Homo sapiens: one gene and its partners. The protein of the gene in region 2 interacts with the protein of the main gene of each other region in a pairwise test. Each region holds a gene or a part of one and is shown on either strand. Other genes may lie near its edges. The genes, in order: UNC13B, PDCL2 and STEEP1.

What was found.
Region 1: the proteins of PDCL2 (region 2) and UNC13B interact in a two-hybrid assay, tested with the Homo sapiens proteins (one large-scale study listed by BioGRID).
Region 3: the proteins of PDCL2 (region 2) and STEEP1 interact in a two-hybrid assay, tested with the Homo sapiens proteins (one large-scale study listed by BioGRID).

What each region holds. Positions count from the first base shown.
Region 1 is NC_000009.12:35,168,459-35,172,112, reverse strand, and holds part of UNC13B (protein unc-13 homolog B), read right to left. Parts: intron 1-3,654. UniProt on the Homo sapiens protein: Plays a role in vesicle maturation during exocytosis as a target of the diacylglycerol second messenger pathway.
Region 2 is NC_000004.12:55,585,656-55,589,309, forward strand, and holds part of PDCL2 (phosducin-like protein 2), read right to left. Parts: intron 1-3,654. UniProt on the Homo sapiens protein: Essential for male fertility, spermiogenesis and acrosome formation.
Region 3 is NC_000023.11:119,558,782-119,562,435, forward strand, and holds part of STEEP1 (STING ER exit protein), read right to left. Parts: intron 1,605-3,654; coding exon 1,487-1,604; intron 1-1,486.

The DNA of each region.
Region 1 (3,654 bases), on a different chromosome or scaffold from region 2:
CCTTGAGCCCAGGAGTTTGAGACCTGAGACCTGCCTGGACAGCATAGTGAGACCCCATCTCTACAAAAAAAAATTAATAAATAAAATTTTAAATGAAGGAAATAGGGCTTATTTTTGAAGAGCCATAGAAAAATAAATTTCACAGCTTTTCTGTGGCAGTTCAAATTTCATCAAGAAATTTTAATTTATGTTTAATCTAAATCACTCCTGCTATAATTCAAGTGCCTCCAATTTCTCCCCACATAATCTAATCTACACTGTCATGAGATTAAGAAATACATTAAATAAATAAACAACAGTATATGCATCTAACAAGATACTACATAGCAACGAAAATCAATGAACTAACTGCCACACACATCAAGTGGAAGAATCTGACAAACATGTTAATCAAAATAAACTAGCCTGGGGTAGGGAACAGTGGCTCATGCATGTCACCTCAGAACTTTGGGAGTCCCAGAGAGAAGGACTGCTTGAAGCCAGGAGTTCGACACCAGCCTGGGCAACATAGGGAGACCCATCTCTACAAAAAAATTTTCAAAAATTAGCCAGGTGTGGTGGCACATGCTTGTAGTCCCAACTACTTAGGAGACGGAGACGGGAGGATCTCTTGAGCCCAGGAGTTTGAGGCTACAGTGAGCTATGATCACATCACTGCACTCCAGTCTGGGCAACAGAGTGAGACTTCTTTCTTTAAAAAACTATACTTGAGACCAGGCATGGTGGCTCACACCTGTAATCCCAACACTTTGGGAGGCCAAGGCGGGTGGGTCACCTGAGGTCAGGAGTTTGAGACCAGCCTGGCCAACATGGTGAAACCCTGTCTCTACTGAAAATACAAAAATTAGCTGGGCGTGGTGGCGGGCACCTGTAGTCCCACCTACTTGGGAGGCTGAGGCAGGAGAATCTCTTGAACCTGGGAGATGGAGGTTACAGTGGGCCAAGATTGAGCCACTGCATTCCAGCCGGGGTAAAAGAATGAGACTCCATCTCAAAAAAAAAGGAGCCAGGCACAGTGGTTCATGCCTGTAATCCCAGCACTTTGGGAGGCTGAGGCGGGCAGACCACTTGACTCCACAGGTTGAAGATTAGCCTGGGTAAAGTGACAAAACCCTGTCTCTACAAAAAATACAAAAATTAGCCATGTATGGTTGCACAAGCATACAGTCCCAGCTACTCAGGAGGCTGAGGTGGAAGAATCACCTGAGCTTGGCAAGATTGAGGCTGCAGTGAGCCCTGATTAGCACCATGGCACTCTAGCCTAAGCAACAGAATAAGAACCTGTCTCAAAAAAAAAGAGAAGGTATATATAAAATACCCCCAAACTCAAAGACTCTTGCTTTAAATGCACAGTGGCTCATGACTATAATCCCAGCATTTTAGGAGGCTGAGGCAGAAGGATTGCTTGAGCCCAAGAGTTCAAGACCAGCCTGGGCAACATAGCAAGACCCCATCTCTAAAAAAAATTTTTTTTTAATTAGCCAAGCATGGTAGTTCACACCTGTAGTCCCAGGTACTCAGAAGGCTGAAATGAGCATATCACTTGATCCCAGGAGGTCGAGGCTGCAGAGAGCCATGTTCGCACCATTGCACTCCAGCCTGGGCAACAGAGCAAGATCCAGTCTCAAAAAACTAATCATAAAATAAGGCTGGGCGTGGTGGCTCACATCTGTAATCCCAACACTTTGGGAGGCCGCAGTGGGCAGATCACTTGAGGTCAGGAGTTAGAGACCAGCCTGGCCAACATGGTGAAACCCCATCTCTACTAAAAATACAAAAATTAGCTAGGCGTGGTGGTGGACACCTGTAGTCCCAGCTACTCAGGAGACTGAGTCAGGAGAATCGCTTGAACCTGGGAGGCAGAGGTTGCAGTAAGCTGAGATTGCACCACTGCACTCCAACCTGGGCAACAGAACGAGACTCCATCTCAAAAACAAAACAAAAAAAAAACAGTAATAATAACAATGTGAAAATAAATGTTAAAACAAGACAGTGCAGTTATTTCCCTACTCAAGGAAGAACTTAATTTATTCTGCTTATTCCAAATCAGACCTAATAATCCTAATGGATTATTTGAGTTTATATAAGAACACTGTATAACAGACATTTTAAAACCTATCTAGATTCCGTGGCCTCTTATCTACAATACAGATTTGTGTCATAAACATGCACAGAGAAAGTATCCAACAAATATTTACTAATGATACACAGCCCAAACTTTAAACAAACTCAAAGTCTGAAATACACAGCACAGGTAAATAGGATAAAAATTAAGCTTATTGGCCTAAAGAGCCCAACTTTCAGAAACCCCATTTTTAGAAACTAAATTACAGAATACGCTACTTATAAGGAACAGAACAGTTTATAACAATAGCATAGCAGAGCAAATTGGTCCTTTCCCCCATCACTGCCTGGCTCACACAAAGCACAATCAACTTCCTGAGGCCCTAAGTGAAAGGAACACAGCCACAGCTCTGCTCTAAGGGCAGGGACTACTAGAACCACGATCGATGGAAGCCCAGCAAAAAGGAGTTAGCTGAGGCAGATGACAATAACATTCAGCAGGGGGTGGCAGGATGGGGGAAGGAGATGAGAAGTATCTGACCAACCTATACCTATGTCTGAAAACTCTAATATCATTACCATTCCTACTTTCCACAATGGCTGTAAACCGAAATATATTTTTGGACTTTCCCTAGAGTAGAATCAATGCACAATCAACGTGTCTAGTTAGATGGATGATTAATGATAAGCCATGAACTTTTTGAGATGGCTCTGTTACCCAGGCTAGAATGCAGTGGCATGAACATGGCTCACTACACCCTCAATCTCTTGGACTCAAGCCATCCTCCTGCCTCGCCTCCCAAGTAGCTGAGACTACCGGCATGCGTCAACACGCACAGCTAATTTTTAAATATTTTTTTAGTAGGAATGGGGTCTTGCTATGTTGCCCAGGCTGGTCTCAAACTCCTGGATGCAAGTGATTCTCTTGCCTCAGCCTCCCAAAGTACTGGGATTACAGGCATGAGCCACCTCACCTGTCCAGTAACGAGTTTTTTAAAGGGCAAATCATAATATAAATCAACTTGGTCCTGTTACCATTCACCAGTGACATTGTTTTGTTCTGTTTTAAAAATGCAGTCGGGCACAGTGGCTCACACCTGTTAATCCCAACACTTTAGGAGACTGAGACAGGCAGATTGCTTGAGCCCAGGAGTTCAAGACCACCCTGGGAAACATAGCAAAACCCTGTCTCTACAAGAAAGCCTGTAGTTCCAGCTACTCAGGAGTCTAAGGTGAGAGCATCACCTGAGCCCAGGGAGGTCAAGACTGCAGTGAGCCGTGATCATGCCACTGCACCCCAGCCTGGGCAACAGAGTGAGACCCTGTATCAAAAAAAAAAAAAAAAGCAAGTAATACATGTTCATATGGAAAATAAAATACAAATAAGAAAGAAAAGTACATGGAAATCACAGGTCAAACTTACTTACAAGAGCAGAGTCTTTGGTCTTTTCAACAGGCATAGAAAAATATTACCTGCTGCTGAAGGATCTGCCTCTAATTGAGGATGTTGATCTGAGACACCGAGGCATTTGGTCCAACTGAGTATAATTATATGCCAAAGAAAACAGCAATGAGAAAATTACACATAAA
Region 2 (3,654 bases):
GTGAAGGCATCAGGTCCCGGACTTTTCGTTGATGGGAGCCTTTTAATTTTTTATTCAATCTCCTTATTTGTTATTGGTCTGTTTAGATTTTGTATTTCTTCTTGATCCACTGTTGGTAGGCTATATGTGTCTATGGATTTATCCATTTCTTCTAGGTTATCCAATCCATTGGCATGTAACTGTTCATATTAATGTCTTACAATGCTTTGTATTTCTGTGGTATCAGCTGTAAGGCCTCCTCTTTTGTTTCTGATTTTATCTGAGTCTTCTTTATTCTTAGTATAGCTAAGGTTTTGTTGATTTTATATTTTCAAAAAACCAAAGATTTTCTTGATTTTTTCTATTGTTTTTCTAGTCTTTATTTCATTTATTTCTGCTCTTTGTTATTTATTTCCTTCTGATAACTATAAGCTTAGTTTGTTCTTTTTTGTTTTAGGCATTTATTGCTATGCATTTCCCTCTTAAATCTGCTTCTGCTGCCTTCCATAGGTTTTGTTGTAGTTCCATTTTTGTTTTTCTCAATATATTTTAAACTTTCTCTTCTAATTTCTTCTTTGACCCATTGGTTGTTCAGTAGCATGTTGTTTAGTTTCCACATGTTTGTTAATTTTCTAAGATTTCCTCTGTTATTCATTTCTGTAATAGAAAAACTGTACTCATTAAATAATAGCCCCTCATTCTCTCCTCTTCCAAACTCCAGGAAACCATTGTTCCATGTTCTACTTTCTACCATGTATTTGACTATTCTGTGTACTTCATGCAGGTGGAACCATACAATAGTTGTCCTTTTGTGACTGGCTTATTTCGCTTAGCATGTTTTCAAGGTTCGACTATGTTGTAGCATGTAGCAGAATTCCATTCTTTTTTAAGGTTGAATAATATTCCATTGTACCTATATACCACATTTTGTTTATTCATCCATCAATGGACATTTGGGTAGTTTTCACTTTTCATTATTAGGAATAAAGCTGTTATAAAAATGGGTATACAAATATCTGTTTAAGTCCTTACTTTCAATTCTTTTGGGTACATACCTGGAAGGAGAATTACTGAATCATATGATATCTGTTTAATTTGGAAGGAAATTACCAGTTTTCCACAGCAGTTGTGCAATTTTACATTCCCACCAGCAATGCAAAAGGATTCTAATTTGTCTATATCCTTATCAACAGTTTTGTTATTGCCCATCTTTTCTATCATAAACATTCTAGTGGGTGTGAAGTAGACTGTGGTTTTGAGCTGCATCCCCTTCATTATTAGTGATGTTAAGCATCTTTTCATGTGTTTATTGGCTATTTGGAGATCTTCTTTTAAGAAACGTCTATTCAAGTTTGTCTTAGTCCAGTTTGTACTCTATAACAAAATATCTTAGACTGGGTAAATTATAAAGAACAGAAATTTATTTTTCACTGTTCTGGAGGCTGGGAAATCTAAGATTATGGCACTGTCAAGTTCATTGTCCAGTGAGGGTCTGATCTCTTCTTTCAAGATGGTACCTTGAACACTGTGTCTTCCAGAGGAGAGGAACACTGTGTCCTCACGTGGCAAAAGACAGAATAGTAAAAAAAAAAAAAAAAAAAAAAAAAAAAAAGGGACATACTCTCTGTAGCAAGCCCTTTTATAAGGGTATCTAATCCCATTTATAAGGAAGGAGACTTCATGGCCTAATCACCTCTTAAAGGCCCCACCTCCTAATACTATCACATTGGAAACAACTGAATTTTGGAGCAGACACACTCAAACTATAGCAAAATCTTTTGCCCATTTTTATATTGGGTTGTTTGTCTTTTTGTTGTTGAGTTTTAGGAAGTCTTTATATCTTCTGGATATTATCCTCTTATCAAATATATGATCAGCCAATATTTTCTATTCTGTGGGTTGTCTTTTTTCTTTTTCTGTTTTTTTTAAATTTTTTTTTTTTGAGATGAAGTCTCAGTCTATTGCTCAGGATGGAGTGCAGTGGAGCAATCTCGGCTCACTGAGAATTCTTCCTAGGTTTAAACGATTCTCCTGCTTCAGCCTCCTGAGTAGCTAAGATTACAGATGCCCACCACCACACCCAGCTAATTTTTGTATTTTTAGTAGAGATTGGGTTTCACCATGTTGGCCAGGTTGGTCTCAAACTCCTGACCTCAAATGATCCACCTGCCTCAGCCTCCCAAAGTGCTGGGATTACAGGTTTCAGCCACTGTGTCTCAACACTTGTCTTTTCATTCTCTTGATAATATCCTCTGACGCAAAAAAATGTTTTAAATTTGGTAAAGTACAATTTATTTTTTTCTTTTGTTACCTGTGCTTTTGGTGTCATAACCAAGAAATTATTGTCAAACTCAATGTCATGAATCTATCTTATGTTTCCTTTTAAGAGATTTCTACCTTTAGCTATAGGACTTTGATGCAGTTTGAGTTAATTTTTGTATACAGTTGTGAAAGAAAAATAAATCTCAGGACCCCCAAATCACTAAGCCAAGGGAAAAGTCAAGTTGGGAACTATGTCAGGCAAACCTGCCTCCCATTTTACTCCTAAATAAAATAGCTACAAAGACACAAGCTACACACCTCCCTCACAATTTGCCCAAAAGGAAATTCCTTGTGGACAAAGGACAGACAGAACTGAAAGTCATCCCTCTCAGACTCACCTGAGACAAATGCATATCTGATTGCTTCCTCTGCTCTACTGTTTATGTAAAAGTGCAGACTCACTGAGCCAGACTAAATTGTGTATTCAGTGGAAGGCTAATCAAGGACTCAAAAGGATCAAGGACTCTCTTATCTACTTCTGACCTTAAAGCCCCCTCTTGAAGTTGTCCTGCCTTACTAGACCAAATCAATGTACATCTTACACATATTGAATGATGTCTCCCGAAATGCAAGCTGTACCCCAACCACACTGGACGCATGTCATCAGGACCTCTTAAGGCTGTGTCATGGGTACATCCTTAACCTTGGCAAAATAAACTTTCTAAGTCAACTGAAACCTGTTTCAGATATTTCAGATTCACAAAGTCTAAGATAAGGTTCCAACTTCATTCTTTTGCATGTGGATACCCAGTTTACCCAGCACCCTTTATTGAAAAAAAATTAACTGTTGCCCATTTAATGGTCTTGGCACTCTTGTTAAAAATTTTTTGAAAATATGTGTGGGTTTATTTCAAGGCTTTCTATTCTACTCTATTTGTCTGTTTTATAGTTTTCAGTATTTATAAGTACTTTTTTTTTTTTTAGAGAGTCTCGCTCTGTTGCCCAGGCTGGAGTACAGTGGCGTGATCTGGGCTCACTGCAAGCTCTGCCTCCTGGGTTCATGCCATTCTCTTGCCTCAGCCTCCCAAGTAGCTGGGACCACAGGCGCCTGCCACCAAACCTGGCTAATTTTTTGTATTTTTTTAGTAGAGACGGGGTTTCACCGTGTTAGCCAGGATGGTCTCGATCTCCTGACCTCGTGATCCGCCCACCTCGGCCTCCCAAAGTGCTGGTATTACAGGCATGAGCCACCGCGCCCAGCCAGTACGGATGTTTTATAACCTATTTCTGATCATTCTGTTATCTAAAAATCTCTGTAAATCTGTTTCTGTTGGTTCATGGTCTCATGGTGGCTTATTTCCTTGTGTGCTTGGTTACCTTTGACTGATTTCTGCTTTCTGTCCTCGAAAACTT
Region 3 (3,654 bases), on a different chromosome or scaffold from region 2:
TCTTTTGTCTGCCTTTTAAATATTCAGTCCTATCTGCTTGCTCCACACTCTGTAATTTTATCCCTTCCCAGGTTTCAATTTCCCATATATACCAAACTCCCAAATCTAAAACAGAGCTAACCACATCACACCCCTGCTTAAAAAACAGAGATAGGCCGGGCGCAGTGGCTCACCCCTCTAATCCCAGCACTTTGGGAGGCAGAGGCAGGTGGATCGCCTGAGGCCAGAAGTTCGAGACCAGCCTGGCCAACATAGTGAAATCCCATCTCTACTAAAAATACAAAAAATTAGCCAGGCGTGGTGGCAGGTGCCTGAAATCCCAGCTACTCAGGACGCTGAGGCAGGAGAATCGCTTGAACCTGGGAGGCGGAGGTTGCAGTGAGCCAAGATCACACCATTGCACTCCAGCCTGGGCAACAAGAGCGAAACTCCGTCAAAAAAAAAAAAACGGAGATGGCTCTTCATTGCCTACAGATTAAGGCCAAACTTGTCCACTTCAGCACTTTACTCTGTCCTCACCCTAGTATGCATGATGCCGTTCCTGTAAAGTAACCTGTGCTCCAGTCACAAACGACAATTCAGGTTTCTAAAGCACACCATGTTTGATGCTTTTAATGCTTCCATATTCCTTCCACCTGGAATGCTCTTCATTCCCTTCATCTACTTGGTGAAATCCTAGTTCAGGCTAAACACAAATGCCATCATCTTTTGAAGCCTTTCCTGGCCACCATTCAGGACAAATGACCCACTCCCACCTGTTTTTCCTTTCGTTCAGAAGACCAGTATTTTTTCCTATCACAATAGGAGTCATTCCCTCAAAGTCATGAGCTCTTTAATGGTAAAAATCATACCTTATTCATCTTCACAGATCCAGTACCTAGCTCAGTGCCTGGCACACGGTATGCTCCACAAGATTACAGGTTGAATGAACTCATTCAAACCTGTAAATTGTAAACAAACTACGGCTATCAAATGGCAATGGAGGGGCCGGGCACAGTGGCTTATGCCTGTAATCCCAGCACTTTGGGAGGCCAAGGAGGGAGAATCACTTGAGGCCAGGAGTTCAAGACCAGCCTGGCCGACATGGTGAAACTGCGTCTCTACTAAAAATACAAAAATTAGCTGGGCGTGGTGGCGCACGCCTGTCATCCCAGCTACTGGGGAGGCTGAGGCAAGAGAGTTGCTTGAATCTGGGAGGTGGAGGTTGCGGTAAGCCGAGGTCACACCACTGCACTCCAGCCTGAGCAACAGAGTGAGTGAGACTCCATCTCAATTAAAAAAAAAAAGCAATGGAATCACATGTGAGCACCATTTCAACAAAGCACAATAAAGATATTACTACATTAACAGAAGTTAGAAAACCACCACAAATGTCAAAGTATTGGGACCAACTGACCTGTTCAACAATAGATGTGATATTTATATTATTCAGAAACAGACTCCAACACAATAGGGAAATCCTAAACAGGGAGCATCAACCTCTTACCTCCGCAGATACATAGTCTCCTCATCTTCTGTGTTACAAAACTTATGGGCATGTTTGGCAGCATCAATCACACGGGACCGGTCCCGGGGCCTCATGGGCAATTTCTCTAACTGGCAGTCTGAAGGAATGGAGAGATTTGGTCACTAGAGTCATGGCAAAATATAGCAAATGAGTCACTGCAAAATATCCTGAGAAGTTTTGAGTGGGATCCCTAGCACTAGAATTTTCTACTACAATTACTATGCTTATTGAAACCTATTATTGAATGTTCCAACTAAAAATGACTTGCTATCAGGAGACCTTGGTATTTGGACCCAGCTCTCTTACTACCCTGGTGATCTTTGGCAAATCACTTCCTCCTTTGGAGACTTTTGCCTCATTTGAAAGATGAGTTAGATGATATTATCTCAAAAGTCCTTCCCAATACTGCAATTCAGGTTTCTGTAAGTATTTCTGTGATCATAGTACACTTGGTTTGTGTTATAATGCATTAGAATCAGGAGACACAATCAAGCATACTGGAATGCCTACAAGGAAGCACTGGGAAAAGTGGGTATGTGCTAAGAAAAGGAGAGAGGCTGGGCGTGGTGGCATGCACCTATAGTCCCAGCTACTCAGAAGAATGAGGCAGGGCGATTGCTTGAGACCAGGAGTGCAATGCTGTAGTGTTCCATGATTGTGCCTGTGAATAGCCACTGTACTCCTGCCTGGGCAACACAGCAAGACCCTGTCTCTGTTTTACAAAAAAAAAAAAAAAAGAGGCCAGGCGAGGTGGCTCATGCCTGTAATCCCAGCACTTTGGGAGGTCAAGACGAGCAGATCACCTGAGGTCAGTAGTTCAAGACCAGCCTGGCCCAGCTACTTGGGAGGCTGAGGCGAGAGAATTGCTTGAACCCAGGAGGTGGAGGTTGCAGTGAGCCAATATTGTGCCACTGCACTTCAGCCTGGGCAACAGAGCGAGACTCCGTCAAAAAACAAAAAAAAAGGAAGAGAGAGGGTGATTATATAGTATGCAAATGATCCATCCTAGTTGGAGGAATTTTAATCTGAAAACAATGAAAACACAGTAAACAAATTAGGTACAGTTGTAAAGCAGATTGAAAATTGATATAATGGGCCAGGTGCGGTGGCTCACGCTTGTAATCCAGCACTTTGGGAGGCTGAGGTGGCAGGTGGATCACCTGAGGTCAGAAGTTCGAGACCAGCCTGGCCAACATATAGCGAAACCGTCTCTACTAAAACATACAAACATTAGCAGGGCGTGGTGGCACACACCTGTAGTCCCAGCTAGTTGGGAAGCTGAGGCAGGAGAATCGCTTGAACCCAGGAGGCAGAGGGTTGCAGTGAGCTGGGATCACACCACTGCACTCCTGCCTGAGCAACAGAGGAAAACTCCGTCTCTCAAAAGAAAAAAAAAAGAAAAAAAAAGAAAATTTATATAATGCAAATTAAGCACCTAAAGGATCACAGAGAAAGTCAAGTGGTCAGAGTAATTCAAGATGAATAGAGGAGGTGAAGAGAGGAGTTAGAGAACACTAGGCAGTTTACATGTCAGCTCATTTACTCTTCACAATGAATGGTTAAAGTAAAGATTTGTTGTTCCTATTTTAAAGATGAAGGAACTGAGGTTAAAAAGGGTAAGAGATATACCATGCATCTAATAAGAAGCAGAACAAGAATTCAGACCCAACTCTAAGTGATTCAAAAGCACATGCTGTTTCCACCACACCTCCTTACCAAGAATTAATTTCTTCGATAAATACGTGAGGGCCCTCTAGGTAGCAGGCACTGTTCTAACACTGTGCTAAAGATTCAGCAAACAACAAAGCAGATAAAGTCTCCGCCCTGGCCGGGCACGGTGGCTCACGCCTGTAATCCCAGCACTTTGGGAAGCCAAGACAGGTGGATCACCTGAGGTCAGGAGTTCGAGACCAGCCTGGCCAACATGGTGAAACCCCGTCTCTCCTAAAAATACAAAAATTAACCGGGTGCGGTTGCTCACGTCTGTAATCCCAGCACTTTGGGAGGCCGAGGCTGGCGGATCACCTGAGGTCGGGAGTTTGAGACCGGCCTGACCAACATGGAGAAACCCTGTCTCTACTAAAAAAATACAAAATTAGCTGAGCATGGTGGTGCATGCCTGTAATCCCAGCTACTCGGGAGGCTGA